Linked DNA regions of Homo sapiens. The protein of the gene in region 2 purifies or fractionates together with the protein of the main gene of each other region. This does not show direct contact. Each region holds a gene or a part of one and is shown on either strand. Other genes may lie near its edges. The genes, in order: STAU1, CAPRIN1, EZH2 and G3BP2.

Region 1 (7,313 bases), on a different chromosome or scaffold from region 2:
TCTTGCTCTGTCGCCCAGGCTGGAGTGCAGTGGCGCTATGTCGGCTCACTGCAACCTCCGCCTCCCAGGTTTTAAGCAGTTCTCTGCCTCGGCCTCCCAAGTAGCTGGGATTACAGGTGCCTGCCACCACACCTGGCTAATTTTTGTATTTTTAGTAGAGACAGGGTTTCACCATCTTGGCCAGGCTGGTCTTAAACACCTGACACCTCATGATCCACCTGCCTTGGCCACCCAAAGTGCTGGGATTACAGGTGTGAGCCGCTGTTCCCAGCCTCAAAATGTCTTTTAAAAGTAGAGCTTTCTGCCCAGAGAATCTGGAAAACTTTCAGGCAAAAGGGCCAGAAAGTAACTCAGGCAAATATTTCCCCGCTGAGTCAGCAGATAGTGTAAACTCAACACAAACGAGGGGCAGCCTCCCCATCATCAGCGCCTTCCCCTTCATCAGTGCACTCACACAGACATTGGTCCGTTTCCTGTTCTTGGCATCTCTGTACTTTGTTGGTCCAACTCAGACAGCAACTTTAAGATGTTCAGCGCAGCCTAGTGGGGATGGAAAGAAGGGTAAAGCCACAGCCACCGCTTGGGACCACAGCATAATACACTGGTCAGGCAGGCAAGAGAGTTCCTGCTGCCCAGCAAACAGGTGGCAACTTCTTCAACTCTGGTACTACTAAATAAAACTTTGAATTTTTAATTTAAAATACAAATTAAAAAATATTCAGTTACCTCACTGAATCATAACCTCTGAAAATGTTATATTTTTCCTTCTAGTATTTTTAACCATGTGGTAACCAGACTGTATAAATGTTATATCCTGCTTTCTAACAAAAATCTATCATGTATTTTTCTTTCTATAGAGACAGGGTCTCACTAAGTTGCCCAGGCTGGTCTCAAACTCCTAGGCTCAAGCGATCCTTCCACCTTGGCCTCCCAAAGTGCTGGAATTACAGGTGTGAGCCTCCACACCCGGCCTATCATGTATTTTTCTTCTTATTACATTATCTTCGGAGACACTGTTTTGTTTTGAAACGCAGTCTCACCCAGCTGCCCAGGCTGGAGTGCAGTAGTGCAATCTTGGCTCACTGCAACCTCCACCTCCCGGGTTCAAGCGATTCTCCTGCCTTGGCCTCCCAAGTAGCTGGGATTACAGGCACCCACCACCACACCTGGCTAATTTTTTTTTGTATTTTTAGTAGAGATGGGGTTTCACCACGTTGGCCAGGCTGGTCTTGAACTCCTGAGCTCAGGTGATCCGCCTGCCTCAGCCTCCCGCAGTGCTGGGATTAGTGTGAGCCACCACACCCCACCCAGAGACATTAATTTCATGCATGCATGACATCCCATCAAGTGAATACATCACAGTTTACTTAGATTTGTTGATCTGATCAATTCCTTTTCTCAGTTTTCTTATAACAATAATTTCATCTGAACAGAAGACCAAAGCAAGTGGTTTTTACAGCTGCCAGAACGTGGACCTGCAATTCCTTGTTCTGGTGAGAGATGAAGTGAGTGCAGTCTCTGGGTGAGCTGCAGGATCCCAGTTGCCCCTCCAGGCCAGCAGGGAAAAGGAAGGGAAAGGTGGGCTAAAGCTGATGAGTTCTGATCAAGAGTGAGAAATCGATCCAATCAGCTATGACAAAAAGTCTTCAAAAATATGAACACTATCAAACGATTCATTGCTCTCAAGGTCTATGGGACAATCTTTCTCCCATCTTCCTCAGGCTAGTAACAAGCTGAACCAAGGCAGGCTCCACATAAACACACAACACCCCAATCCCTCACCCAAGGTGTGACGTACCATATCATGGCAGGACTCCACATCCTTGCCGATACCATGGCTGATCAGAGGTGGCTGAGAGGAGCAATTGATAAGAGATACAAATTCGTTCTTGTTGTTTTTGGGGAAGTCTTTGTATTCAACCTAAGGGGGAAAAGAGAGCTGAGGCTAGGTAGGGAACAGCAAGTATGAGTGGGCTGGAGGGCTGCAGCTCCAGGCCCCACAAGCAAGATCACCAGCTCTTTTTTCCAACTCAGCCCCACTGTGGCCATACTAACACCTGCCCTGTCAGCCCAGAACCTTCCAGGAACCTAGGTGTCTGCTCAGAAGCCCAAGACTGGGAGAAGCCATATCCTTTCCTACCAGACAGAAAGTGTCAGCACGATGAGTCTGTTCTTTGAAATCCAAATTTACAACCACTGCTAGTGGTTAGAAGCTTTTAGGGTTGGCTTGCATGTTGAAATCTTACTACCAAAGGATAAAGATATTTCTCTTACCACATATGCTTACAATACTTCTATACCTCCTACCCTTCCATCACTGCTCCCCAGCCCATCCCTGGACAGAACTTGATTTAAGAAAAAAGTACAAAGTTCAAAGTTCATTTTCTGAGAGAAGCCAAAAGATGACTGTCCTGAGGCACAGCCATCACAGCTCAGGCCAGACAGTTACCTGGAATCCCTGGACTCTGGAAAGATAGTCCAGTTGCTCAGAGGGTCTCGTGAGAGGTCCATGGGGTACGTGGCCTGAAGAGATGTTATTCTTTAAAATGGTCTCGGCTGTGGGCGAGGTGCCCCCATACAACAACTCTCGGGCTATCATGGCAGTTACCGTGGCCTTGGCAGGATTCGGAGCTGCCCTGGTAAAATCTTTGGTGTGATGTCCTTGACTAACTCCTACAGCCTGGGCGACCTCGGGCACCATGGGAAGAATTCCAGCAGGCAGCTGCTGATGACTTAGATAAGGCATCCTGAACTCATCCTCTTTATTACCTGGGAGGGACATACACGGTAAACACGAATCCACATCCACAGCCTGGAAAAACGCAATGACACCATCAAACCCCACGCTGGCCCTCCCCTTGGCACGCATGGCAGCGCAGGGAATCAGGGAATGATAAAGACACTTTGCATGCGGGACCTCACTGGCTGGGCTCCTGCTGTTATTCAGGACCCATGCAAATCCCAGAATCACGTTCAGAGGAAGACGATATTAAGATCACACTTACTAGTCCCATTTTCATCCCCAGAGCCAGGTTCAAAAAAGGTTACTTTTCTTCCATCCCCTGGTTTCTTTATGGGTGTCTTAAAAAAGAAGAAGAAAAAAAAAAGGCCATGAGCATAAATCAGATCACTGAAAAATTAGCTCCTGCTGTCTAAATCTACACAAAGTCCAGTCAGCAATAACTGTGGCAATCGGCAGAAAAACCCTGCCCCACCTGACCACTGGCACCCTGACAGACACCTGGGCAGAGCCTGCCTCCTTCTCCTAATGCACCCTCCTGCCCACACCCCTGCCCACAAAGAGCATCTAACAAAGTGCACTAACCTGTGAATGCTGAGCTGCACTCTGCACCCACAGGAAGACGGGAAGCATTTAACCAGAAAGAGCAGAGATGCTAGACGGTAGAGCCCACCAAGGTGGGGAAAGAAGCTTTCAGACTGAAGCTAAACAAATAAATCAAGAATATTTCCTGGAGCTGATATCCAATTAAAAAATAAGGTGACATTCCAAAATTAACACCCTTACGGGGAAAATGTTATTACCTAAGAATTTTGTCTAACACAACATCACCTTTCTAAGAAGTAACAAAGGACACTCTGAATGTCCTACAAGATTCTGAAATGAAAAACCCTAAAGCCAAGTCTAAGATCTATACTGGTGGTATCTGGGGTCCCAGTCAGTTATTAACTGGCCATGACTGATGCTGTTTCTGTCAATATGACTGGCAGACATGAATGAATCAGGCCTGATTTCAAGTTTATCTCACCAGGACCATTCAGTGATGGGAAAGAAGAAGGTCAGCCATGGCTTTTGCTGAGGTCCTGCTTACCACTTCTGGCAGACACGAATTTTTCTTTTTACGTTCCTTTTTTGTTGTTGTTGAGACAGGGTCTGTCGCCCAGGCTGAGTGCAGTGGCATGATCACAGCTCACTGCAGCCTTGACCTTCCAAGGCTCAATCCTCCCATCTCAGCCTTGTAGCTCGGGCTACAGGTACAAGCCACCATACCTGGCTGATATTTTAATTTTTTGTAGAGACAGGGTTTCATCATGTTGCTCAGACTGGTCTTGAACTCCTGGATTCAAGGCCTCAGCCTCCCAAATTACAAGTTTGAGCCACCACACCTGGCCGTGAATTTTTCAACAGGGGATTATTTTCATCTGATGTTTAACTCACATAGGAAAAAAGAAATCCCAAACCTAAACTTTGGATTTGGCCTGTCTCTACTGTCACACTGTCTTATTTTGCCAGAAAAATCAAAGCCTATTCCACAATTAACGAAAGCCTAACAGTTATAAATCTTTCACACAGGCTTCATTTCTAGAGTGCAAATCACACTTAGTAATTTCAGTCCTAATTACCCTTCATCCTCATCCTACAAATAGAGAGGAGCAAGCTGCCCTCCACAAAGCGTCCCCAGACCACAAAGATACTGACACAATCAACGATCTAACCCAGAGCCTCCTGGGGCCAGTGGACATGCGAGGCCCCTCTGAGCACATTATGGTCCAAATGGATGAGACACTCCTCAGCAGGACTCCTTGAACTGTCAGGCAGATAAAGCCTTGCCTTGAAGCCTGCCCCTGGAGGTGCCCCAGTTCCCTAGGGTGAGGCGAGAGACCATCTTGCAATCAGAGAGCCCACAGCACTCACCTTCTCCTCTGACTTGAGTGCGGGTTTGGTGGGCTGCGCCTGCGGGACTTTGAAACCAAGGATCTCCAGCATGTTCTCGGCTGCATTGCGCTTGGCCACCTTCTTGTTGGTGCCCGTTCCTTCTGCAGTGTGGTTTCCAACCTTCACCTGCACAAAGAAGTCAAAACACAGACCAGTGCTTAAACCTTCAGAATAACAACCAGGCAGGAATTGGTGTGTCAGCAAAATAACCAACTATGGTCAGAAGCAAGATAACAGCAGTGCCCCGAACCTGGCCTCCTTGTCTCTGAGAGCTAATTATTAAATAGTCAGGAGTTTGGGAAGCTGGCTGTTAAACACAGCCAGTATTAAACATTTAATTATATAAGCTGATAATTATTTTAACAGAGGTAATTTTTGACTGCATTTTATAATCATCTGTGTTCTGAGGGTCTGCCCAGCTATTGCATTTGTACAATGGAAACAGTCTGTGATGGTGAACTACTGTACATCTATTCCCAGCATTGCCATTGGAAGTATCACTTTGAGAGCTTGAAATCAGCCATGGTGGGACTATTTATACCACAGAAATATACAAATGCTACGTATCAAAGATCATAAGCTGTTTATTGTCTAACTCTAAACCTACAATGATGAAAAGGTTAATAAAGCAGGTTAATCTTAAAAGCATGAGAAGTCTGCAGCCATTACATTGTAACTAGCACAAAAAACTGAAATATCTTCCCGTCTTTGAAAATTATCTAATTTTGCAGAGAAGCCACTCATATCATTTACAAATGAGTGATGTTACATGTCTTCATTGTTTCACTTTTTCTTTTTTCTTTTTTGGGATAGACAGGGTCTCACTTCTTCACCCAGGATGGAGTGCAATGGCATGATCTCAGCTCACTGCAACCTCCACTTCCCAGGTTCAAGCGATTCTCCTGCCTCAGCCACCCGAGTAGCTGGGATTACAGGCGTGTGCCACCATGCCTGGCTAACTTTTCTATTTTTAGCAGAAATGAGGGTTCACCATGTTGGTCAGGCTGGTCTCGAACCCCTGACCTCAAGTGATCCGTCATGCTGGGATTACAGGCGTAAGCCATCAAGCCCAGCCTGTTTTACTTTCATCTTACCTATTAACATAAATAAAAAACATCAACCAGCCGGGCGTGGTGGCTCACGCCTGTAATCCCAGCACTTTGGGAGGCTGAGGTGGGTGGATCACCTGAGGTCAGGAGTTCGAGACCAGTCTGGCCAACATGGTGAAACCCCATCTCTACTAAAAATACAAAAAGTAGCTGGGCGTGATGGTGGGCACCCGTGAATCCCAGCTACTCGGGAGGCTGAGGCAGGAGAATCACTTGAACCTGGGAGGCAGAGGTTGCAGTGAGCCGAGATCACACCACTGCCCTGCAGCCTGGACAACAGAGCAAGTTGACTCCATTCCCCTCTACCCCAAAAAAAATGTATCTCAACCAGTATTCATGCTACAACCAAAATCTCAAATCTACAGTATGTATTTGTCAGTGACATGAGCAACACCTTTGCTGAACTGGATAGTAATAAACCATTATGTGCTGTCTGATTTTATAACACTATCGTTGGTAACTGTCACACTGAAATATGTATGAAATTTACAATAAAGTGTATATTATTTATAAATTGTACTACACATCCTTTCTGTCAGTAAAATTTATAAAACACACATATATGTCAGTATAATTTATAACACACATCCTTTGTGTCAGTAAAATTTATAACACACATGTATATAACACCCATGTATATATCTATAACATACATATTCAGCTCATTCCACCAAACCACCCTCCCCGAAGAAGAGCTGGTTGTTAAACATGTTCCAGCACATCACTACTTACAACCCCCTTCCAAGTTGATTGTAATAACAGGCACCTGGCTGCTAAAACCAAAAGCCCAGGTCACAAGACTCAGAGAGTCAAAGAAACCATTCCCTGGCCTGGGACTAAATTCCAACCTGGCCATCTACCAGCCATTTCATCTTGGGCAAACTACTGATCCTCTCAGCAAACTGCAACTTCCTTTTGTGGAATGAAAGGATCATTCTTTTCCTACCTTCTGACTGCATAGGTAAAATATACGAGGTCAACTTTCTAAGTTATAAATTGCTATACAAGAGATAAGGATTCTGTCTTACATCAGAAAGCACTTAAATTCAAATCACAATTAAGTTAAGCTGCCTATGTGAAATGACCACTTAGCTTTGAACTTAATCAGCTAAGTACAAAGAAATGTTCCATACTAATCTGAAGTGTCACCCAATCTAAGGAAGAGGTAACCCTAGATTCCAGACTCCATAAGAATTAGGAGGAAGAGGAACAGATCTCTTGATACTACTTACAAAATTTACCTTTGGTAAAGAGCAATGTCATAAACCTTCAAGGAGATGTAATGAAGAAAAACTTCTCCCAGCACCCACCACCCCAGGACTCTTTCTTCCAAATTTCAGTGCAACACACCCACATTCCCACCAGTGCACCCAGCAGTAGTGCTGGTGTGCAGACATTACATTCATTTTTTTAAGCATTAAGATAAACAACTTAATCTTTGATATGTAGCCTTTACAGATTTCTGTGGTATGTTTAAGCTATCAAATTATTGCAAGCCACAAGGTCTTAATAAGGATCACAGTTGGCTG
Region 2 (7,313 bases):
TCTCTTTAAATTTGTATAATATAAAACCTAAAAATTGCAAAAATATATATATTTTTGAAGCTCGACGTTAAATAAACCCAAGTCTCGTTATAAAAGCCCTCCACAAGTACTTCTAAGATGGAGAAATCTGCACTAAATTTTAGAATTATGTCTAAACTATGTCTTCTGAAATTCTCAGTTCTAAATAAAAAAGGCTTATTATATTATAATACATTATTTAAAATGCAAGACTTAAGAAAAACTTAAAAAGTCATCAAGAGGAAAAATGAACCTAAACATAAAAATAAAGGCTGACAGCTATCCACAACAATAAATTTGCTGAATTCCAACAGAAGACTTGGACACTGATGAAATTCTTATTTTCTTTCATAAGCTAAGAAAGAAACCAAGGAACCAATTAAAACAAAAGTGAAAAAATATTTTTTAATTATTTTTTTAAAATAGAGATGGTGTCTCGCTACACTGCCCAGACTGGTCTTGAACTCCTGACCTCAAGTGATCCTCCCATCTCAGCCTCCTAAAGTACTAGGATTATAGGTACGAGCCACCTAACCTGGCCCTGAAGAAAATAGTTTTATCACTCTTACCTGTGTCGCTTCTGGTTGTACAGGAACTTGATTAGGCTGAGCAAGTCTAGATTCAGAATGAACTGCAAAGGTGACCAAAACATTTTTGTCAAACAAAATTAAATTTTTAGAGAGACGCGTCTAAATACCTTTTATTTCGCTATTAAAGGCTTTTTTTTTTTTTTTTTTTTTTTGCGGGGGGGGGGGGGGGGGGAGTGTCTCACTCTGTCACCCAGGCTGGAGTACAGTGATGTGATCTTAGCTCACTGCAACCTCTGCCTCCCAGGCTCAAGTGATCCTCCCACCTCAGCCTCCCAAGTAGCTGTGACTACAGGTGTGTGCCACCACACTCGGATAATATTTGTATTTTTAGTAGAGACAGGGTTTCGCCATGTTGCCCAGGCTGGTCTCAAACTCCTAGGCTCAAGCAATCTGCCCACCTCAGCCTCCCAAAGTGCTGGGATTATAGGAATGAACCACCATGCCCAGCAATTAAAGGTAAATTTCTATAGCCAAACCATAAATAAACTTTTTAGCAATCATGAAAGTAAATTGGGAAATGCAGATAAAATTTTAGCTTTCAAGTGAGCATTTTGGTTTACCGGCAGTGGTTATTATTTAATAGTTTACTTTCACAATTGGTTTCATCTTGTTTTTTCCAAAAGTAAAGTAAAATGTTAATAGAATGCACTAACAAATAATCAGTGCCATGAAAAAAGACTTTTAAAGCTGTACAATAAAGTGGCATTATTCATACTCTAGACCTCAGACAGATAGTATTCCATTTTGACCTTTTGTTTCTTCTGAAACAGGGTCTCACTGTGTTGCCCAGGCTGGAGTGCAGTGGCGCCATCATAGCTAACTGTAGTCTCAAACTCTGGGCTCAAGAAATCCTCCCACCTTGGCTTCTTGAGTAGCTGGGACTATAGATGCATGCCACCCTGCCAAGCTAACTTTTTTATTTGACTAATTTTTAATTTTTTTGTAGAGGCGAGGTCTATGTTGCTCAGGCTGGTCTCAAACTCCTGGGCTCAAGTGATCCTCCCTCCTCAGCCTCCCAAAGCACTGAGATTACAGGCATGAGCTACCATACCCGGCTCAATATATGTTAACATAACCAACTTTCAATTTCAAGTGTTTCTAGAGAAAAAGAAAATTTAAAATATGTACTTTTCGGCCAGGCACAGTGGCTCATGCTTGTAATCCCAGCACTTTGGGAGGCCGAGGCGGGTGGATCACGAGGTCAAGAGATTGACACCATCCTGGCCAACATGGTGAAACCCCATCTCTACTTAAAATACAAAAATTAGCTGGGTGTAGTGTGGTGTGTGCCTGTACTTTCAGCTACTGGGGAGGCTGAGGCAGGAGAATCCCTTGAACCCGGGAGGCAGGGGTTGCAGCGTGCCGAGCCAAGAATGCGCCACTGCACTCCAGCCTGGCGATAGAGCGAGACTGCGTCTCTAAATAAACAAATAAATAATATATACTTTTTAACAGCCTATATTCAACTCAGCATGCATCTTCTTAACAATTCCCATCACTCTCTCACCTCCCTTCCCAACAATGATTAAACAGATAATCAAAACGACGATCTTTGGTTAGTCATTTAGAAAGTACCCATTTTCACTGGAGAGTCTAATGGACTCAGCATTATGTAAATAACTAAATAGCCTTACAGGTTTTATCAGTGCTATGTATACTGACTTTCACACAACTCCCCAGCTGAGAAAACGACTTACTCTCTTCCTTTGGTAGAGCTCAGAAAATGAACACTAAAAACCATGATTGCTCTCTTGTAGGTGTCACCTTTGATCTGTTTTCTAAAACTCTTGATAGAAATGTGAGAGCCGGGCGCGGTGGCTCACGCCTGTAATCCCAGCACTTTGGGAGGCCGAGGCGGGCGGATCACGAGGTCAGGAGATCGAGACCATCCCGGCTAAAACAGTGAAACCCCGTCTCTACTAAAAATACAAAAAATTAGCCGGGTGTAGTGGCGGGCGCCTGTAGTCCCAGCTACTTGGGAGGCTGAGGCAGGAGAATGGCGTGAACCCGGGAGGCGGAGCTTGCAGTGAGCCGAGATTGCGCCACTGCACTCCAGCCTGGGCGACAGAGCGAGACTCCGTCTCAAAAAAAAAAAAAAAAAAAAAATGTGAGAGATATGAGCTCCCTTTACTTCAGAAAAATCCTAACTACCTTACACCAAATTAACTGTCATTAAACATACTTTTACTCAGCAATTTATTTTATGATATTTAACATCATGCAACATTAAATAGGTTATTTTATTTAGTTCCACTTTTGTGCAACTAAAACTGATGTGTTCTGGGAAAAACCAAGATGACTCACAATCACTAATAGTCCTGGAGAGAAGGTCCACTTAACCCAATGGAAGGCACCAACTGTATTTAGTGCTACTACTTCAAATAATGGTGTAAGTCCAGAAAGAGTCTGAAACTGTCTTGTGGTTTCTCTCTTCCCTTTGCCTCTTACATATTCCCTTACCCACTTCATTGCTGTGTATTTTTTTAAGGTAATAAAATCCAGAAATTCTCCTAGAAAGCTAAAAGCATTCAAAAAAAGGCACCTCTATTATTTTTACTCCTAGATTAATTTTGAAATTTTAAAAGCCAAGCAAAATTTCACTTGTTAAAGTTACAAAAACAGACAAAACTGGTCTATTACAGTTACAAGTACGGAAGTGGTTGCTATCGCTAGGGGTGAGGGTAACTAGTGATTGAAAGGAAACAACGTAGGTTTCTGGGGTACTGGTAATGTTTCATTTCTTAATCTAGCTGCAGGTGTTTTCAGTTTATAAAAACTCATTAAACTTGCGTATATTTTTCTATATCTACATGCCAATGAAAAGTTTAAAAATAAACAGTTATAAACTACATTTTTAATTCAAATCATAGGAACAATAACATTCTTTCTATCAAATTAAAAGACCTAAGAGTCAAAATTAAACAGTCATTAAAATAAACAAAATTTATTTTCACAATCTTTTTAAAACCTGAAAGTACTGGCCTTATATTTCTCTCTCACATAAAAATGTACCACTACTAACCTGGAGGGCAAACCAGCTGGGGCATGTCCATGTTTTGTGTTGGATTCATAGGCTGTGCAGATACAATGGCAGGATCAAGTGTCTGATTTTCAAAATCCAGCATTGAATCCTACAGGTTAAGTTAGGATAGAATAAAGTCAAATAATATAAACACTTAAACTTTCTGTTACAGAGTCTGACTAAAATGAACATACCTGTATGAAATTATAGGGACCCTGCATTTGTGCCATAAGGTCTTGTACTCGCTGTCTTCTCACAAGGGGATCTGCCTGAGCCACTGGAGTCAAAGAGTGGGGCTCTGGTACTGAAGGGGATGCAGCCTGAGGTTGCTGCTGGAGTGAATTTACCACCTAAGGTAGAAAAAAAAGGATTAGAAGGAATAGGAGAGCAAAAAAGCTCCACTCACTACCACCATGATGGGTCCCCCACACTACATAAACCATCTATACTATAAACAGAACGGGCTTTAATGCAGTTACCCAAATGAATTACATTTATGCCAAATTTAACATTCTGAAAAATGTCATCACTTCTACAGTGTTTCAGTTCCATAAGACCACTATGTAGCATTTCATGTTGATTTACTTATTTATTTATTTTTTTTTCTTTCGAGACGGAATCTAGCTCTGTAACCCAGGCTGGACAGCAGTGGCGGGATCTCGACTCACTGCAACATCCATCTCCCGGGTTCAAGCAATTCTCCTGCCTCAGCCTCTCAGGTAGCTGGGATTACAGGCACCCATCAACACACCCGGCTAATTTTTGTATTTTTAGCGGAGACAGGGTTTCACACCATATTGGCCAGGCTGGTCTTGAACTCCTGACCTTGTGACCCACCCGCCTTGGCATCCCAAGTGCTGGGAATACAGGCATGAGCCACCATGCCCAGCCTCAGATTTATTTTATAAGCTGCTTTCAAAGAAAGATTACCTGTGTTTACATCCTAAAATAATGTATTTTTCTTAAAACTGTTATGCCTTCTATAGTAACTGGATTTATATATCTATGTCAAATATATATCTATCTCACAACCTGGTACATAGCACTCAAGAAATGTTAGCTATTATTATCATCAAGATTTGGGTTTTTCCCATTCCATTTTCTCAGCCAACACCATAGGATCAAGCTTTACCAACTCATCTAAACTGCTACAGAAGCCAAAGCTCACTCTATTAGCCTTTTCCCAGCTCTAATAATTTCCTCTGCTTATTGTTCTTAGTAATTCCCTGCTCTGCAAGGAAATCCTATCTTTTATTACATCAAATTTATATTATTCTGTCTGGATTTAAAACTGGACAAGTCATACTGGTTGAAACTAGGCAAAATCAGCTATTCCCTTTATAAACAACACAGATAAAAATCACTACCAAAGCGAAACCAACAATCTGTGTAATACCAACTTCAGGATGCTCCAAAAATTCGTGGAATCTCATGTGGATAGCCTTTAGAAAGGCCCACCTACTAGATACAAAGAACAAACCACACTGGCACAGTGGCAAGTAGTATGCTCTTCTCAAATAAAATCCAAAAAATACTTAACTACAAAGCACTGTATACTGCTTCCCAACTTCTTCCTACTATGTCAATATTTACCTTGCATTCTATGTTCAATAAAACAAATATGTTAATAGTTCATTTCTACTTCTACATCCATGCTATACATCCCTATTACCTGGCTCCCCTAAAAACATACATCCCATCGACTTAGTCAAGGCTCAATGGGTTTGTACACCTCATATATACAGCTGACATTTGAACAACATGGGCTTGAACTGCACAGGTTCACTTATCCTCCAGTACTCTTGAGATGTGAAACACCTGTATATATGTGGGTCCCGCAGATACATGGCACAACTTGAGTATGAGCAGACTTCGGTGTGTGGGAGTGTCCTAAAACCAATGCCCCTGGTATAACAAGGAACAACTGTAAATCACCTCTACTAATCTTTTTGATTGATTTCTCTTCTAATCCTCCTATAACATTTCTGAACTGCATTCTTTAATTCAGCAAATATACACTATTTTGTTGGGACTTCCTGAGCAGTATTTTCATCCCAAGTACCTTTCTGGGGTAAGTGCCTACTCTCTTTACCTTACCAATGGGACATTTTGGTGCTCCAACAGAGGGATGAAGTTGCTGGCACAATTATAACATCTATGGGCCAGGCGCAGTGGCTCATGACTGTAATCCCAGCACTTTGGGAGGCTGAAACGGGCAGATCACTTGAGGTCAGGAATTCAAGACGAGCCTGGCCAAAATGGTGAAACCCCATCTCTACTGGGCAAGAGTGAGACTCTCAAAAAAAAAAAACTTTGCAATCTCTTTGGAAAATGGGTTTTTTTCTTCTTGAGACAGAGTCTCTGTCAACCAGGTTGGAATGCAGTGGCACGATCTCAGCTCACTACAACTTCTGTCTCCCCAGTTCAAGTGATTCTCGTACCTCAGCCTCCCAAGTAGCTGGGATTACAGGCATGCACCACCATGCCCAGGTTTTTGTTTGTTTTTGAAGTAGAGACTGGGTTTCACCATGCTGGCCAGGCTGGTCTCTAACTCTTGGCCTCATGTGATCCACCTGCCTCAGCCCCACAAAGTGCTGGGGTTACAGGCATGAACCACCGTGCCCGGCCAAGAGAATGGTCTTGATATAAGAATAACATATTAAAAGGAAAAGCATATTACCCTCAGCTTACAGCTATTTTCCTGCACCTTGGGGGTGTAAAGAAAGACATCTAAAAGAAGATCAAAAGGAAGGCCAGGACCAGTTGGTAAGGTTTTTAGACTGTATCTTACAGGTAACAAGGCATCACTGAGAGCCTCAAGTACAAGTAACTTAAAGCTAACTTTTCCAATAATTAAGTTGTGACAATGAATAGGATGGTCTGGAGGCAGTCAGAGAGGAGTAATATGAAGAGAGTCACTGAACTAGACATGAGGACCCGAAAAAAATCATCATTATCAGTTGAGAGACAGCATTAGAAAACGCTAGAGGAAGTCTACAGCCTGGTGACCAAACAGCATTAGGGTAAAGGAGGAGTGCAAGATGATACCCCAAAACACAGCTATCAGTGTGGGAGCCCAGATTTTTACAGAGCAACCTAATTTCAGTAAGAGACAAATCATGGTAACAGATTAATCCACAGATAACTTTGTATAAAATAATTTTTTTAGATTGGTTCAGCAAAGCAGGGATCCTATTAAACATCCACAGGGATAAACATTCATTTTTTGGAAGTAACAGTCTGGTGTAATGAGTCTGTTATTATAATAAATGTACTAATAATGCAAAAAACAATCTTAATTTGTTCTCAGTAGAGATAAAAATTACTAACTGAAGACAAAGACAACAACTTTGCAATACAGAGAACTCTTACCTCAACCGTTTCAACTGTCCACTCATCTACCTGCTCCTTTTCACCACTGGTGAACTGTGTTTCTGCCATGAACTGTCTATTTACATACTGCAAAGCAAAGTAAATGTTTGAGACATTTGTTTGAAAGGCAGCAAAGTAAAGGCAGCATTAAATTAAAATCATACCTCTGTTGATTCAACTTCACTTTGCTCAGTGTACTCTTCTGCTGGCTCAGGTTCTAAGAGGTTAAAAAATGGTGCAAAACAAAAGGATTTTTAGGTCAGTGATACTACTCTACTCTGTGTGATATTGGTAGATACACGTCATTATGC
Region 3 (7,313 bases), on a different chromosome or scaffold from region 2:
TTTAAAAGGTGAATAACTAATGACGTTGTTGTTTCTAGGTCCTTATCAACTAGGTTGTGGATTAAGCAGGCCACTCTATGGTAAAGCTCTTGTTCTCCCTGTTGTCCCTAGACGAGAAAAACTAAATGTGGCTAGAACCAAGCAATCCTGTTTTGTTTTGCTTTTTTTCCCCTCTGAGACAGGGTCTCACTTTGTCGCCCAGGCCGGAGTGCAGTGGCACAAACATGGCTCACTGCAGCCTCAACCTCCCAGGCTCTTCCAGGCTCAAGCGATCTTCCTGCCTCAGCTCCCAAGTAGCTGGGACTACAAGTATGCACCACCACGCCCGGCTAATTTTTGCATTTTTTGTAGCAATGGGGTCTTGCCATGTTGCCCATGCTGGTCTCCAACTCCTGAGCTCAAGCAATCCACCTGCCTCGGCCTCCCAAAGTGCTGGGATTGCAGGAGTCGGCCACCGCGCCCAGCACAATCCAGTTACTAAGCATGCAAATCCACAAACATGCAGAAGTCCAGGCTGAAAAGGCAGTTTATGGCAATTCATTTCCAATCAAACCCACAGACTTACCTAATAAAATCAATCTAAAATAAAGTAAAGTTAGTATATACAATGCCACCTGAATACAGGTTATCAGTGCCTTACCTCTCCACAGTATTCTGAGATGAATTCATTTTTCTGCACAGGATCTTTGATAAAAATCCCCCAGCCTGCCACGTCAGATGGTGCCAGCAATAGATGCTAGAGAATAAAACACAATCACATCATCAAAAAAGGAGGGTGAAAATGGACTGGGGACAAAGTAGACTACAGAATGAAAACAAAAGCTATCACTGTAAATCCTCAGACCTGTTTGTTCTAAGGCAGTAATTGGGCACACAGCTTCAGTCAACGTGAAAGCTGCTGAGAATGGCTATGAACATTATGTTTTCCTTATACAGCAGATAAGAATCTCTGTCTTACAGAAAACCTTTTGGTGGTGTTGGTCCTCTGCAATGACCATCGTTCAGCAAGGTGCTCTAGGCCTGCTGCACTTTTGGCTTCCCTGTATCTTCAGCCCTTGATTTCCTCGAGTAATTCACTTTCAACCTGAATTTAATATAAGGACACCACCAAATCACTCTTCCTCTCCATACCTTTCCCTCTACTTTCCCCAAGTGATTCTATTAATAGTTATTCCATTTTCAGCCCCAGGACACCCCCTGATTCTTCACTGGCGTTGGTTCCCTCTGAAGCCCATAGCAGCTTGGCTTTGGATTTGTTCTTCCACCCCACCTCCTCAGGATAACACAAGAAACTACCGGGAGGTGTTATCATGATCTTGTCAGTCCAGTAGTCTATTTTCAGCAGAAATGCCAAGATGATCATTGCTATAAATTATGTATTTAGGGATGTGTTCCCCAACATATGCCAATTTTTCATCACGGCTCAGTATTATGCTTTCATCCAAAATTTTCTTGTGACCTTTACAAAGGCTTCCTATCTATTCCTATTCTGGACCATCTTACCACTCACCTGTCATGTGAACTTCCCAAATAGCCTTCTGATCAGAAACTAAATTAGCTAAATACTGCTATGCAAATGAAACCCAACTGGTAAAAGGTATCTACATAGTTTAACATTTTTAAGAGTTAAAAAATGTCTTACAAAGAGGACATGTCAGTATGAATAGAATTGCCCACTTTCTGAACAAAGTGAGGAAGGAGTACAATGGTAAGTTGTTTGGGGGGGAAATTGAGATTTTTAGGTCTGAGCAGGTATGCCATCGGAAACGGAACCAGAGTCACTGTGATCCAATGACCTAAATGGACATATAACTGCCTAGAGTAAAATCATCTAAATGTCTAACAGAAAAGAAAAAAGTCAAAGCTAAAAACAAAAAGCCCACCACCCTGCACAACTCTCTGCCATAAACACAGACTTTGGTTCAAAGACACAAACAAAACCAAGAGAACTTCAATGTTTTGCCTGGAGCAGAATTTCTGGTAGAAGGGGACTTGCTGGTAAGAAGTGTGTTCTCAATTATAAATAAATGGTCCAACAACAAAGATATGTCTACTCTACACCCCACATACACACACACACACACACACACACACACACACAGAGCATAAGAGCAGGTTAATGGGAGCCTGGAGGATTTGATCTCCTGCTCCTTTACAAGTCTTGTGACTTTGGGTTTCCTTACCCGTAAAATGGGGGTTAACACTTACTCCTCACTCACAGGGTTAGGAGAATCAATGAACAAATCCACTAAAGCACTCACAACAGTGCCTATTTTTACATGCTTAATAAATGTCAGCTATTATTATAAAAAGAACTGACTGAAGAAAGAACTTATCATCTGCCCTAAAAAAAAAAAAAAGATACGAAATTTCCCAAATACATGCTGCTGAAGTGTCTTTTGCTCAATCATTACTTCCTGGCTGATAGAGTTAACTCACCTACATACAATTCCCCAGACTAAAAATATATAGTTCCTAGCTGGGTTTTTTTCAAGGTTATTAAACAAACAGGAAGTAAGTCTATAAAAACCTGCCATGGGAAATTTCATCTTTTACTCTACATAGCAAGGAATCTATAAATACTCTTTGATGAGAATGAGTCTATATTTTGATAGAAATCACCATTTATTTGCATTAAGGATACTAGATAAACTATTAACTAAAAGACAAATTCAAATAATCTATTAAACAGGTAGAAAAAATACCTCTTATTCCTAAATCTGATACCATGAATGGCTACTTCTCAGAATTTGCTGGTTTCTCCTACTATCAGAGTATGGTGCTCTATATAAAACTGAAGAGACTGCCCAAGGGTGCATTACCCAGAGAAAATTATGAACACTTTCTCATCAGTTGCACCTTTCAAGGATCACTTTTACTTTTTGCCCCAGCTAAATCATCTAAGGCAATCCTGACATTTGCATCACTAAATAGCTAACTACAAACAATCTTCCAGAAGTGACTTGTTGCTCACCTTTTTGGAGCCCCGCTGAATACTGCAGTTCTTGCAGGACACATTTTTACTGTCCCAATGGTCAGCGGCTCCACAAGTAAGACAGAGGTCAGGGTCACACTCTCGGACAGCCAGGTAGCACGGGCACTGCTTGGTGTTGCACTGTGCTTTGCAGCGGCATCCCGGAAAGCGGTTTTGACCTTCAGAGAGAGGTTTGGAGGTTCTTCACTCATCACCGTATGCAAAAACTTGCAGAAAGATACGTGGCAAGGGCTGTACTGGGCATCTCACTGACTCTCAACCCTCACAACCACCTTATTACCCTACTATATAGACAAGGAAATGGAAGTATTAACAGCGAAGTTATAGCTGTTTGCACTGAAAAAGACCACCACTGAGTTGTTTTTCCATTTTTCATTTGTTAAATAGTGTATATATTTAAAGTCGGTGTGAATAAAGGGTCTGGATGGAACAATATCCATGGTCCTTGACCATTCCAATAGCCCCTAGTTCTAAACACTCCCTTAATACCCAAGCTTCATGTGCAGTCTCATTAAACAATTATAAAAATCTACTATGTTTATGCTACATTCCTTTAATCTGAAGACTAAAACCCTCCTAACTCTGACGATTTCTGGTGCCCAAAAATTATTTGGGTAGCTCCTTCTAGATTCCTCTTACAATCTGTGCCAACTTTAATACAACTTAATTTAAATGATCAAAGAAGAAAAAAATAAAATTCAGGTTCCTTTAATACAACTTTGCCTGCCTCACACACACAGACACACAACACCCAGGCGACTGACTGGCCACTGGCACAGGGCCAGGTATGGGGCTCAATAAATACTTGTCAAATTGATGAGTTTCGTCAAGTAAACAAGGGAGTGCTCCCATGTTCTTATTTTTGATTTTTTAAATTGCTAACCAAAGACCTATTTAGTTCTCATGCAATTGCATCAAAGCAACAAATACTTACACTCTGAACTACATTGACAAAACTTTTCACAAAAATTTTGTGCTATCACACAAGGGCACGAACTGTCACAAGGCTGCCGTGGATGATCACAGGGTTGATAGTTGTAAACATGGTTAGAGGAGCCGTCTGAGTAAAGATAACATCATGCAGGCCAATGAATCCAGGGAGATGGAAACGATCATACACAATTAACACGAGTACATTCTTCCCTACTACCTGTGGAGTGTAGCTGGCCTGCCTTTACTGAATGCATAACATTACACATATTCCGGTTTCCACAACGATGGCAAAAAATACTCTCCCACCCCCAAGTGCTTATGAGTTCCATCTAAAGCACGGCTACATCTCAGTCCCATCCCAAAGCACTTCTCCTTCAACTGACTCGGACTCACACCTTCCAGTCAGCCTCCACTTTACAGAAGAGAATTGACTGGGGATTCATCAGTAGACGTCCTCCATTCAAATTGGTTTAACATACAGAAGGCAATTATATTAGAATAACCCAAGCTCTAATCCAGTTACTATTCTAAAACAAATGAAAACAAAGCAGATATTGTTAAGCTAATAATGAGAGGAATGGAAAGATGCTAACCCTTTTTCAGCTGTATCTTTCTGCAGTGTGCAGCCCACAACCTGCAAAAACACAAAGAAAATTAAACCAAATTTCTGCGGGAAGCTACAAATCCAACAGAGAGCTGCTTAACTGGATCTATCTGTGCCATGAATACAGGAATGCGTTAAAGCCAAGAGTCATGCCCTGCCCAGTTTATATTTGCCATCAGTTTGAAGCAACTCAAACAGCTTGATGGCTCAGGCTGCCCCAGGTGTGGCAAGACGTCATTTCCTGTGTTCATCCATGACTCCTGGTCAGAACTCCTGAGCTCCCAATGCTGCACAAAGCAGCAGGTGTGTCTGCCTGTTGATTTATTCTGATGTGGATGACACTGATCACTTCCTCTTATTTCAGGCATCATAAACCAAGCAAGTGAACTACGTGGTCAGAAATAATTCAACCAAAATTTCAGAAGCATCTCCTAAAGCCTAAAAAATAAAAATAAAAACTTGACTTTAAAAAAATTCTAAATTGGGTTGGCCCTACACTTATTTTTGTTAAAGTAAGAAAATGTAACATGAGCCTGTACACAATTTAAGAAGCATAATCTAACTGCACCCTTACCTACCCAATTAGGTTTCTCATTTTTAAAAATGTGAGGTAGAGGTATGGGGAGATTAGAGCAGATAGTCCACTCATCAATTTTTCTGGTTCTACATTTACAAATCAAATCAGCCTGAAAACATTCGCTAAGGTGAAAATAACATTCACACAAGCTTAAAGTAGGGTACCCATTAGGAGTATCGGAATGCAATGCCACACAACTTAGAAATTCAAGCTCCTGGAATAAAAGATACTTCTAAAAACTGGCCCAGAGCTCACATCAGAAACACAGAACATTTCATGATGTTAAAGTAATTGTTTACGTAACCTTTACTGCAAAAGCTACTAAATATGTTTTTCTTAACCCAAATGCAGTCTGGTAACCGTAATTTTTATGACTCTTAACATACCAAATATACTGAAGGCTGCTGTATTCTTATAGAAAAATACTAGCAATTCCCAGTGGAAATAAGATTCCATAGTTCTGTTTTTGATGGCAGTTTAAGGTTTTTTAAAAATAGACTAAGTAGAAACCAACAACAGCCCTTAGGAAGGGCCTTGCCTGCAGTGTCTATCTATGTTGACTTCTCTAAGGAGCTTCATGACAGACTCACCGGTGTTTCCTCTTCTTTTTCCTTGGAGGAGTATCCACATCCTCAGCGGGAGCTGGAGCTATGATGCTAGATTCTTTGACTCTAAACTCATACACCTGACAAGAGGCACAGTCACAGAGCCATGAGGACAGTCTTATTTAGGCAAACCATTCTTATACTCATGCATACCAGAAAAATGTCTTTGTCTCTTCTGTGACACTGCTAGATGCTGGGGATATAACACACATCGCTGTCCCTACCCTCACATTAGGGGTAGCTGTAATTATATTCTGGTCAAGAACTGTGATGCTAAATTTCAATTCTTACTAGCTTTTAAAAGCTACTGCTATCTAACCTTAAAAGTCTACATTGGGGAAATTCTGTAACATACCTGGAGAATAATTTTCATTCAATTCCCTCTTGGGAAGAAAAAAAAATTATTTTTAGGAGATGAATAGGAGCTTAGTAATAACCAAGAATTTTCTTTGTTTGGACAACGAGTACAGTTTTATCTCTATGTTTGAAGCTCTTTTAACAACATTTTTATCGGATATCTTACCTGTCTACATGTTTTGGTCCCAATTAACCTAGCAATGGCACAGAAATTGTCATAGTAAGTGCCAATGAGGACTCTAAACATTGAGGCTTCAGCACCACTCCACTCCACATTCTCAGGAGGTTCAATATTTGGCTTCATCTTTATTGGTGTTTGACACCGAGAATTTGCTTCTACAAAACCAAATGTAAGCACTGGTCAAGAAATGATTGGAAATAATATTAAGAAGTACAATTCAGGGTGTGCTTAAGAAAAAAGCGAAAAGATGAGGACAACTCAAATCCAATCGGCAAAACACTAACCCATCGTAGTTCACATTTTCCAACAAAACTACTCACAGAACGTCAAGAATATTAAACCAAATGATCCAAATTTCATTATTCCCTACCTGAGAAAGATCGAAAAAAGAAAATGGCACAAAGAATGAGAATAAAGTGCATCATCAGCTTTCAAACAACCAAGCAGGGCAAACACCACAAGCTAGGGTACGGGTGCAGGCAGGAAACAGAAACAACACAGCTACACATTCTTGAGATAACTCTGGTCTTTATACTGAAACTAACCAACTAAGAAAATTATTCAATGCATTATACATCCTTAATCCTCACAACACGAACTTTCACAGAACAGTAAAACCCAGTTATTAGACGTGTCTTACCAGAGGAGCTCGAAGTTTCATCTTTCTTCTCTTCTTCTTCTTTATCATTGTTCTCTCCCCCCGTTTCAGTCCCTGCTTCCCTATCACTGTCTGTATCCTTTGATTCCAGCACATTAATGGTGGGGGTGCTGGGCCTGCTACTGTTATTGGGAAGCCGTCCTCTTCTGCGGCCTCCTGGACGTTTTGGTGGGGTCTTTATCCGCTCAGCGGTGAGAGCAGCAGCAAACTCCTTTGCTCCCTCCTACGAAATGAAAAATGTCAACATCAGGGCAAAGTTCTAAAACTCATTTTGATGGAAGAGAAAAAAAAATACTATATAAGCCAGGTTAGTCAAAAAATGTATCACATTATCCATTTATCACAAATAATCATTTGCATGTCTAATATACTTGTTTTGATATGCTTTTGATAGTCTGAAAAT
Region 4 (7,693 bases), on a different chromosome or scaffold from region 2:
GTGGTACACCATTGAATGAAAGCTTCACAAAGAAGATCTAAGAATCATAGTGGTACAAATAAATAATAAAAGTAAGTTATGGATTAAATCTCTTATTCAGGCTCCAAAAGGTGTTTTTGTTTTCTGTCCTTCTCAGAAGTTGAGGGAGGCTAGTTTTAAAATTCAGAAGCTATTAAAAGTGACCAAGCAGTAAGAAATGGAAATGCTTGCTGTCCACAAAAATAAAGCATGTATTTATACTATGTTTTAAAGTTTAACAAGTAACCTACTATTTTCTTTTGTCTTTAAAATAGATAGGGCATTATCTTCATTTACAGAAAAGGATGTTTAGAGAGCCTAAGGAAAGGTGTTTGGGGTTCCTCAGTTACAGTAAAAAGAAAGAGGATTTGAAATCAGGTCTCCTGACTCCTGACTCAACTGATGTTTTCATTACACTTTGGTTAGGAACAACCGCTTTGGAAGAGCAGCCAGCTCTTCCAACAATACAAAAAATTAATTTTAAACAAGCAATTGTTAGCTTATGTGAAACTGTTGAGAAGAGTGAAAAGCAAAGGAATACAGCAGGACAGCAACAGAAAATCCAAGAATAATTTTCAATATACCTATGGTTTCAAGATAGGGTAAAATACTTGGAAATTAGCAGATAAAAGTAAGCAGAAACACGACAGTCAAGAAACTAATTCTATTGCTTCTGAAGGTAGGCCAGGACCTTCCTGAAGGTGGGTGGACCAATTTATTCTATCGGATATAAAACAAGTGTCTACCAGTGGAGAGTAACTAGGTCATGTTTGTCCATTAAATTCTACTGAATTTAAGTTCAGACGCAACACTTTAGTTTGTGCCTTTCAAAATCAACATTGAAAAGGAGTCATTCACTGTCTCCATATTCACTCAAAATATGTGGAAAGTCTTTTTAAAGCAATCTAGGGGGAAAATGTTCAATCCTAATTATGCGTAATAAACAGCGATAATTTTGCAGGATAAGGAGGGAAGTTTTCAGAATCTAAAGACACAGTGCCAACACTTTCTTCAAACCAGGAGTTGCCTGCTGACAAATCAACTGCTCAGCTGCTAACTGAACAGTTAAGTTAGTTACTCTACGAAATGGTCAAATAATGTGTTTTCTTCTTTACCTTCTAATTTTTATCCCCATCCATCCCACAAGCATTCTGGTTCACTCTTGATGTTTTTTCACTATTACTAATATTTCGACCCTGAATATCAATCTGAACTATGACAGCTCTTAGTAAGAAATTCATTCTAGGTCCTTATTATTCCTACAATTCCTTGACTGCTTTTCAGAATTAGTTTGTAAAGATTAAATCATAACATAAAGGCCCATAAGAGTAATCTTAAACATTTAAGAAAAATGTTACTGCCAAAGAAAGGATAATTCAATCCTGAGGTTCAAACTCATCGTACCGTTTATCTCCTAAGACCAGGAATCTTGGATTATCAAAAAGACCACTGGATGCTAACAGGGCCAAAAGTTTACTTAGAAACTTGGTTCACATGCCTAAGGCTATATTAACTGCCAAATATGGAGCTAGAGAAAAATTGCCATCATCTCCCACTCTAGTACACCGGGGCTCTCTTAACGACAGTTAATGTTTCCTAGATCCAGGTACCTGCAACACTAACGTTTGAAAGACCAGAACAAGGTACAGAGCCTTGAACCTAAAACCACAGTATCTTAATCCAAGTTAATATCCCACAACAATCATACAGGGAGAACAGGACTTTACTATTCCAGCTAAAAGTGCAAGTGCCTTTTTTTTGTTGTTGTTATGAAGGAAAAGGCACTCTCCTCCCACCCCCCAAATCCGTTAGAACATTAAGTATGTCTTGGGGAAAAAAGCTGATCTATGCAGGAAATTATAGACGAAAATCTATATTCGCCCCAAAGCGGCAAAGGGCCATCTTAAGAAATCTGCTTTTAGAGACGCAGGAAAAATTCTATCAGATTCCACTAACAAAATCAACACAATCTAGGGAAGCTTCTGTTCCTTTCTGTCCCCCCATCCCAACAAAAGCGGGAACCCATCCCCCAAAAGCCATTCCCGAGTCAATAAGGGATCGTCTGCATAAGAGGGGGACGAAGAAGGCGCACGTTACAGTTCCAGTATCCGAACACGTTCGGATTAAACCCGCGGTGGCAGGGAGAGGGGGGTTGGTCAAACACGACGGAACACTAGGTACTGGGTAAGCGAAGCGGCGGCTGCCTTCAAACCCGGATTCTGTTTCCGTGCACAGAAATGGTGCCCGGAGGCCGCCACTTTCGCATCTGCGTCGCTTCTGCCTCCGTCGACACAACCTCTTTTCCCCTCCCCCCACGGGCGGGGTGGCGACGGCCTCTCCGCTCCGAAGGAACAAGGTACAAGAGCCGAAAACGATTCGGAAACAGGAACGGTGGGCTACCCACCCTAAAACATCCCCTCCAGAAAGCCTGCTCCCACACTTCCTGTATTAAGCTTCCATCAGCGCGCCTTCGGGAGCTGCTGCGTGCCTCCCCCCCCACTTCGCCACCTCATCCCCAATAAACCTCAACCCCACCTGTGCACTCGGAGCCCTCTGCCCGCAAGACGCTCGCGGGTCACCTCCCTTCCCAGGCGGCCTCCCACCCCTCACCTAGAGGAAAGACTGGTCTTCTCTCACGCACACACGGCACCGTAGGGAGCCGGCAAGAACAATGTCTCTGCCGCTACACCTCCGGCTCCCGGGCTCACACACCGGACGATTGCCTCGCGCCGCGGAGCGCGAATGGAATGTCCCTTTCCGACCACCACACCGACCTCCCCTCCCGGCGCCCGTACACACCTCCAGCCAACGGCGGCGGCGGGTACGTCGCGCGGAGGTCAGAAGAGTCGCTGAGGACCGGGTGCGGCGGGTTCTTATTGCTCGCCGCCCCCTTCCTCCGACAACTCGGAAGCCTCGGAAGCCGGAGAGCCGCGAGTTCGTCTGCCTCACAACCACCTCTTCCCGGGCGCCAGGCGCTGCGACGTGCGACAAGGACCACGGACGTCCCGCCCCCTTTGCCACCGCCCCCTCTTATTGTTTTACCCCTGCCGAAAGGGCCAGGGAACCCCCGAGCACAGCGTCAGCCAATCACGCATCTCCTCCAGAGCCGGACCCAACCTTCCCGTGTCCCTCTGCGGAGCACGCGCAGTACGCTGCCGCGCTCGCACACGCTCGCGCCCGGAAAGCCGGGGAACCGGAACCGGCCTAAAGCCAAGATAAGAGTCCGCTGATTTGACGTCACAAGCAGGCTGCCTTTCTCCGGTCCCGAGGCTCCAGCCTTGCCGCCCTTCTTCCTGATCGCGCAAGCGAGAGCTGGTTCGCAGCAACGCAGTGTCTTTTGTAGACTGATATTCTGGTCCTTTTTATTAATGGGAAGGAGGGAATTTAGTAATCTCTCTGAATAGGTGTCTGCAGGTTGCTGCTGTAGACGAGCTTAAAATGCAGCCGGTGATTTCAGCTGTTTGCACACTAAACTCACCTACATTGTTTACTTAACCCATCCTAGGTTTTAAGCCCCATTAAGAGGCCCTGCAGTAAAGGAAGAACATGACGTGGGCTTTACAGAGGGGGAAAAGACTATTTCTTTGTGTCCTTGTTACGAATTTAGGCATGGCTAAATATCAGTAGATACTAAAGCATTTTACATACTAAAGCTAAAAGAAGGCCTGAAATACAAGGATTACAGTCCTGTTCTAGCTCTAAGCCCAGACTTGCCCCCAGGGTGAGACACTGGTGACCTTGTTTCATGGACAAAGCCAAGCCAAATCTTGTAGTCAAGGAAGCCACTTTGCATCTTAGGTCTGGCAGTGTTTTCAGAGAATACCGAGATAGCACAGGAATTTTGGAATGAAGGACTGAGGAAGTGTTCAAAGAAACGGAAAGGAAAAAATACATTAATGAATGCTTACGAACTAAACATGGTGGACGCAAGCATGTACATCTCATCAGTTTTCTTCGCAATCCTGTAAGGGCAATTTTAAGGTATTTGGCATGTTAAGACAATACGTCAAATACCTTAAATATTGGCAGAGGCAATGCCAACATTAGGGCCTCCAAAGTCTACAATATCTTTACCTTTAGACTGCTTAAAGATACTGTTATATGCAAAATATTTGGGCAGACCATCACTTTAATGAAATCAACCTGATGTTTTTCCTTAAAGCATCAAAATACATTACATGCCGGCTGTCCTTTAATATACTGGGCTTATATACCAGGCATTCTTGTAATTATACAGCCTTCTGAGCCTCACAGTAACCCTATGAGCTAGTTGCTATATGTATGTACATATATATATATATATATATATATTTTTTTTTTTTTTTTTTTTTTAAGATGGAGTCTCTCTGTGTCGCCCAGGCTGGAGTGCAATGGCACGGTCTTGGCTCACTGCAACCTCCGCCTCCCGGGTTCAAGCGGTTCTCCTGCCTCAGGCTCCCTAGTAGCTGGGACTACAGGCGCATGCCACCACACCCAACTAATTTTTATATTTTTAGTAGAGACGAGGTTTCACTATGTTGGCCAGGCTGGTCTCGAACACACCTGACCTCGTGATCCGCCCGCCTTGGCCTCCTAAAGTGTTGGGATTACAGGCGTGAGCCACCGCACCCGGCCAGTAGTTGCTATTTTTATGCCCATTTTATAGATGAGAAAACAGGCTTGGAGAGGTCAAGTAACTTACCCAGGACTACACTGCTACTATTCACTGGAGCTGGGATTCAAACACAGGCAATCTGCCTCCACAGTCCATACCCTCAGGCAAACTATAGAATACTCCCATTGTACTAATTGCCGCAATTCACTTATCTGCCCTACTGCTGACTAACCTTCAAGTGTTTCCGGTTTGGAGCTCTTCCGTGCAATGCTATTATAAATATTCTTCACCATGTATCCTGCAGAGGTGCAGAACTTTCTCTAGAGCAGTGGTTCTCAGACCTTAATGTGCACCGAAATCACCTGTAGGGCTTGTTAAAACAGATAGTTGGGCCCCACTCCCTAAGTTTCTGATTCAACAGAGGCCCGAGAATTTGCACTTCTAACAAGTTCTCAGCTGATGGTGCTACTGCTGCTCTAGGAGCCACACTTTAAAAACCACTGATATAGGCCGGGCGCGGCAGCTCACGACTGTAATCCCAGCACTTTGGAAGGCCGAGGGGGGCGGATCACCTGAGGTCAGGAGTTTGAGACCAGCCTGACCAACATGGAGAAACCTCGTCTCTACTAAAAATACAAAATTAGCCGGGCGTGGTGGCGCATGCCTGTAATCCCAGCTACTCGGGAGGCTGAGGCAGGAGAATCGCTTGAACCTGGGAGGCGGAGGTTGCGGTGAGCTGAGATCGCGCTATTGCACTCCAGCCTGGGTGACAACAGTGAAAACTCCGTCTCAAAAAAAACAAACACCACTGATCTAGGGCAGAGGTGGGCAAACGGTTTGATAAGGGAAGGATTAGATAGTAAATATTTTTGGTTTTGAGCGCCACGTATGGTTTCTGTTGCATATTCCTCTCTCTCTCGCATCCTTTAAAAATTTAAGAAACATTTTTAGTTTAGCTCTAGAGCTACACAGAAACAGCCCTCAGGTAACCCTGCTCTTGAGTAGACACCAATAAGTGGAGTTAATGGGAAAAAAGATTCAGCGATCTTCAATGTTAAGTAAATATCTCTAACCTATTCTAACTGGCGATTTTTACCTCATAAACATATCTCTACACAAATAGCCCCTGCCCAGGTTCAGGCCCCTTCATCTTCCCAGGAAGACTGCAGTGGCCTCCTAACTAATCTCCCTGCCTCTCAAACATAGCCTCCATGAAGCAATGTCCACCTCCTATAGACTAGGCAGGGAGACCAGTGTGAACGGTATTCATTCGGTGGCTCAGGCCAAAAACCTCTTTTTCTCACACCAATTTATTGACAGCCAATTGCCAATAATTTTTTTTTTTTTTTTTTTTTTTTGAGATGGAGTCTCGCTCTGTCATCCAGGCTGGAGTGCAATGGCATGATCTGGGCTGACTGCAACCTCCACCTCCCAGGTTCAAGCCATTCTCCTGCCTTGGCCTCCCAAGTGGCTAGGACTACAGGCATGTGCCACCACGCCCATCTAATTTTTCTATTTTTAGTAGAGACGAGGTTTCACCATGTTGGCCAGGTTGATCTCGAACTCCTGACCTCAAGTGATCCACCCACTTCGCCGAATTGTCAATACATTTCTGTTCCCTCTACCTTCAACATTTATTCTGGATTAAATACTTTGCATCACTGTTACTGCTGCTATAGTAGTCCAGGCCACCATTGCCTATTGCAATAGCTTTCTACTTGGCCTCAATGCTTCCACTCTTATTCCACTACAGTCTGTTCCCCTCACAGCAGCCAGATCTTTCATAGTTATAATTGAGATGGTCCCAAAACCTTTAAAAGGCAACACAAAATCTCAGGTCCTTACCATGGCCTACAAGGCCTACCTGATCTAGTCCTTACCTATTACTTCCATTTCTTTTCTTACCACTGGTTTTCTCACACCACCCCAGCCAGCTCTTCCTTTGACATTCTCATCACATTACCACCCCAAGGCCTTTAATGTGAACCTTTATCAAAACACTGTGAAAAATAAAAGTAAATGAATCAGACCCAATCACCATTAGCAGGTAAATTTTTAAAAGTAAAATTACTAGAATTATATTACCTGATTCCTGATTTTTATTATAAACTTCAGCATAAAATACTTAGATAAGTATTTGAATAAGATAAGACATTTGAATTTATAAAGCTTTTCCTCTACACCCTTTCATTTGACCATTCTCAACTTTACTGAATACTAAAAGATCAACCAAGTCCATTATCACCACTTTTGCTGATGAAGTAGGTGTATACGAGATGACTACATGCGGCTGGGCGCAGTGGTTCACGCCTGTAACCCCAACACTTTGGGAGGCCCAGGTGGGTGGATCACGAGGTCAGGAGTTCGAGACCAGCCTGGCCAACATAGTGAAACCCCGTCTCTACTAAAAATACAAAAATTAGCCAGGCATGGTGGTGCGCACCTGTAGTCCCAGCTACTGGGGAGGCTGAGGCAGGAGAATCACTTGAACCCAGGAGGCGGAGGTTGTGGTAACCCGAGATCGCACCACTTCACTCCAGCCTGGGCAACAGAGCGAGACTCTGTCTCAAAAAATAAAAAATAAAAAAAAAAAGAGATGACTACATGCATGTTTAGGGGTCACACACCCCACATAAATAAGGTTTATGAAGACCAAGCATTGGAAGGGAGTAAAATCCAAGTCCTTAAGGGAAACGCATTTTTCTTGGAAAGTGTCTTTACTCACCATGTTTTTAAACTTTTAAGGCTTGCAAAACAAATGTCTTGGCCCCACTACTAATTCAGTTAGGAAGGATGATGCTGTGGATTGAATGTATGTGCCCCTCCAAAATTCATGTTGAAACTTAATCTCCAATGCAAAAGTATTAAAAGGTGGGTGGGACCTTCAGGCGGCAACTAGGTCATGAGGGCCTCACCTTCATGAATGGAATTCGTGTGCTCATAAAAGGGGATTGAGGGAGTTCATTAGTCTCTTTTGTGCTTTTGCCCCTTTCACCATGTGAGAACACAGCAAGAAGGCACCATCTTTGAAGCAGAGCAAGCCCTCACTAGGGTTGGCCCTTTGATCTTGAACTACTCAGC

The links.
Region 1: the proteins of CAPRIN1 (region 2) and STAU1 purify together in Homo sapiens (affinity purification with mass spectrometry; 2 studies listed by BioGRID and IntAct, with this or other methods). This does not show direct contact.
Region 3: the proteins of CAPRIN1 (region 2) and EZH2 purify together in Homo sapiens (affinity purification with mass spectrometry; 2 studies listed by BioGRID and IntAct, with this or other methods). This does not show direct contact.
Region 4: the proteins of CAPRIN1 (region 2) and G3BP2 purify together in Homo sapiens (affinity purification with mass spectrometry; 5 studies listed by BioGRID and IntAct, with this or other methods). This does not show direct contact.

Annotation. Positions count from the first base shown.
Region 1 is NC_000020.11:49,115,328-49,122,640, forward strand, and holds part of STAU1 (double-stranded RNA-binding protein Staufen homolog 1), read right to left. Parts: intron 4,802-7,313; coding exon 4,655-4,801; intron 3,082-4,654; coding exon 3,006-3,081; intron 2,770-3,005; coding exon 2,450-2,769; intron 1,922-2,449; coding exon 1,799-1,921; intron 541-1,798; coding exon 455-540; intron 1-454. UniProt on the Homo sapiens protein: Binds double-stranded RNA (regardless of the sequence) and tubulin.
Region 2 is NC_000011.10:34,082,731-34,090,043, reverse strand, and holds part of CAPRIN1 (caprin-1), read right to left. Parts: intron 7,220-7,313; coding exon 7,167-7,219; intron 7,090-7,166; coding exon 7,003-7,089; intron 3,981-7,002; coding exon 3,825-3,980; intron 3,740-3,824; coding exon 3,631-3,739; intron 650-3,630; coding exon 588-649; intron 1-587. UniProt on the Homo sapiens protein: mRNA-binding protein that acts as a regulator of mRNAs transport, translation and/or stability, and which is involved in neurogenesis, synaptic plasticity in neurons and cell proliferation and migration in multiple cell types.
Region 3 is NC_000007.14:148,810,985-148,818,297, forward strand, and holds part of EZH2 (histone-lysine N-methyltransferase EZH2), read right to left. Parts: intron 7,134-7,313; coding exon 6,893-7,133; intron 6,408-6,892; coding exon 6,238-6,407; intron 5,795-6,237; coding exon 5,700-5,794; intron 4,971-5,699; coding exon of another isoform or gene 4,964-4,970; exon of another isoform or gene 4,569-4,963; intron 4,563-4,568; coding exon 4,522-4,562; intron 4,056-4,521; coding exon 3,930-4,055; intron 3,154-3,929; coding exon 2,975-3,153; intron 737-2,974; coding exon 641-736; intron 1-640. UniProt on the Homo sapiens protein: Polycomb group (PcG) protein. Catalytic subunit of the PRC2/EED-EZH2 complex, which methylates 'Lys-9' (H3K9me) and 'Lys-27' (H3K27me) of histone H3, leading to transcriptional repression of the affected target gene.
Region 4 is NC_000004.12:75,670,391-75,678,083, forward strand, and holds the start of G3BP2 (ras GTPase-activating protein-binding protein 2), read right to left. Parts: upstream 3,022-7,693; 5' UTR 2,818-3,021; intron 2,768-2,817; exon of another isoform or gene 2,629-2,767; intron 2,505-2,628; exon of another isoform or gene 2,423-2,504; intron 2,312-2,422; exon of another isoform or gene 2,116-2,311; intron 1-2,115.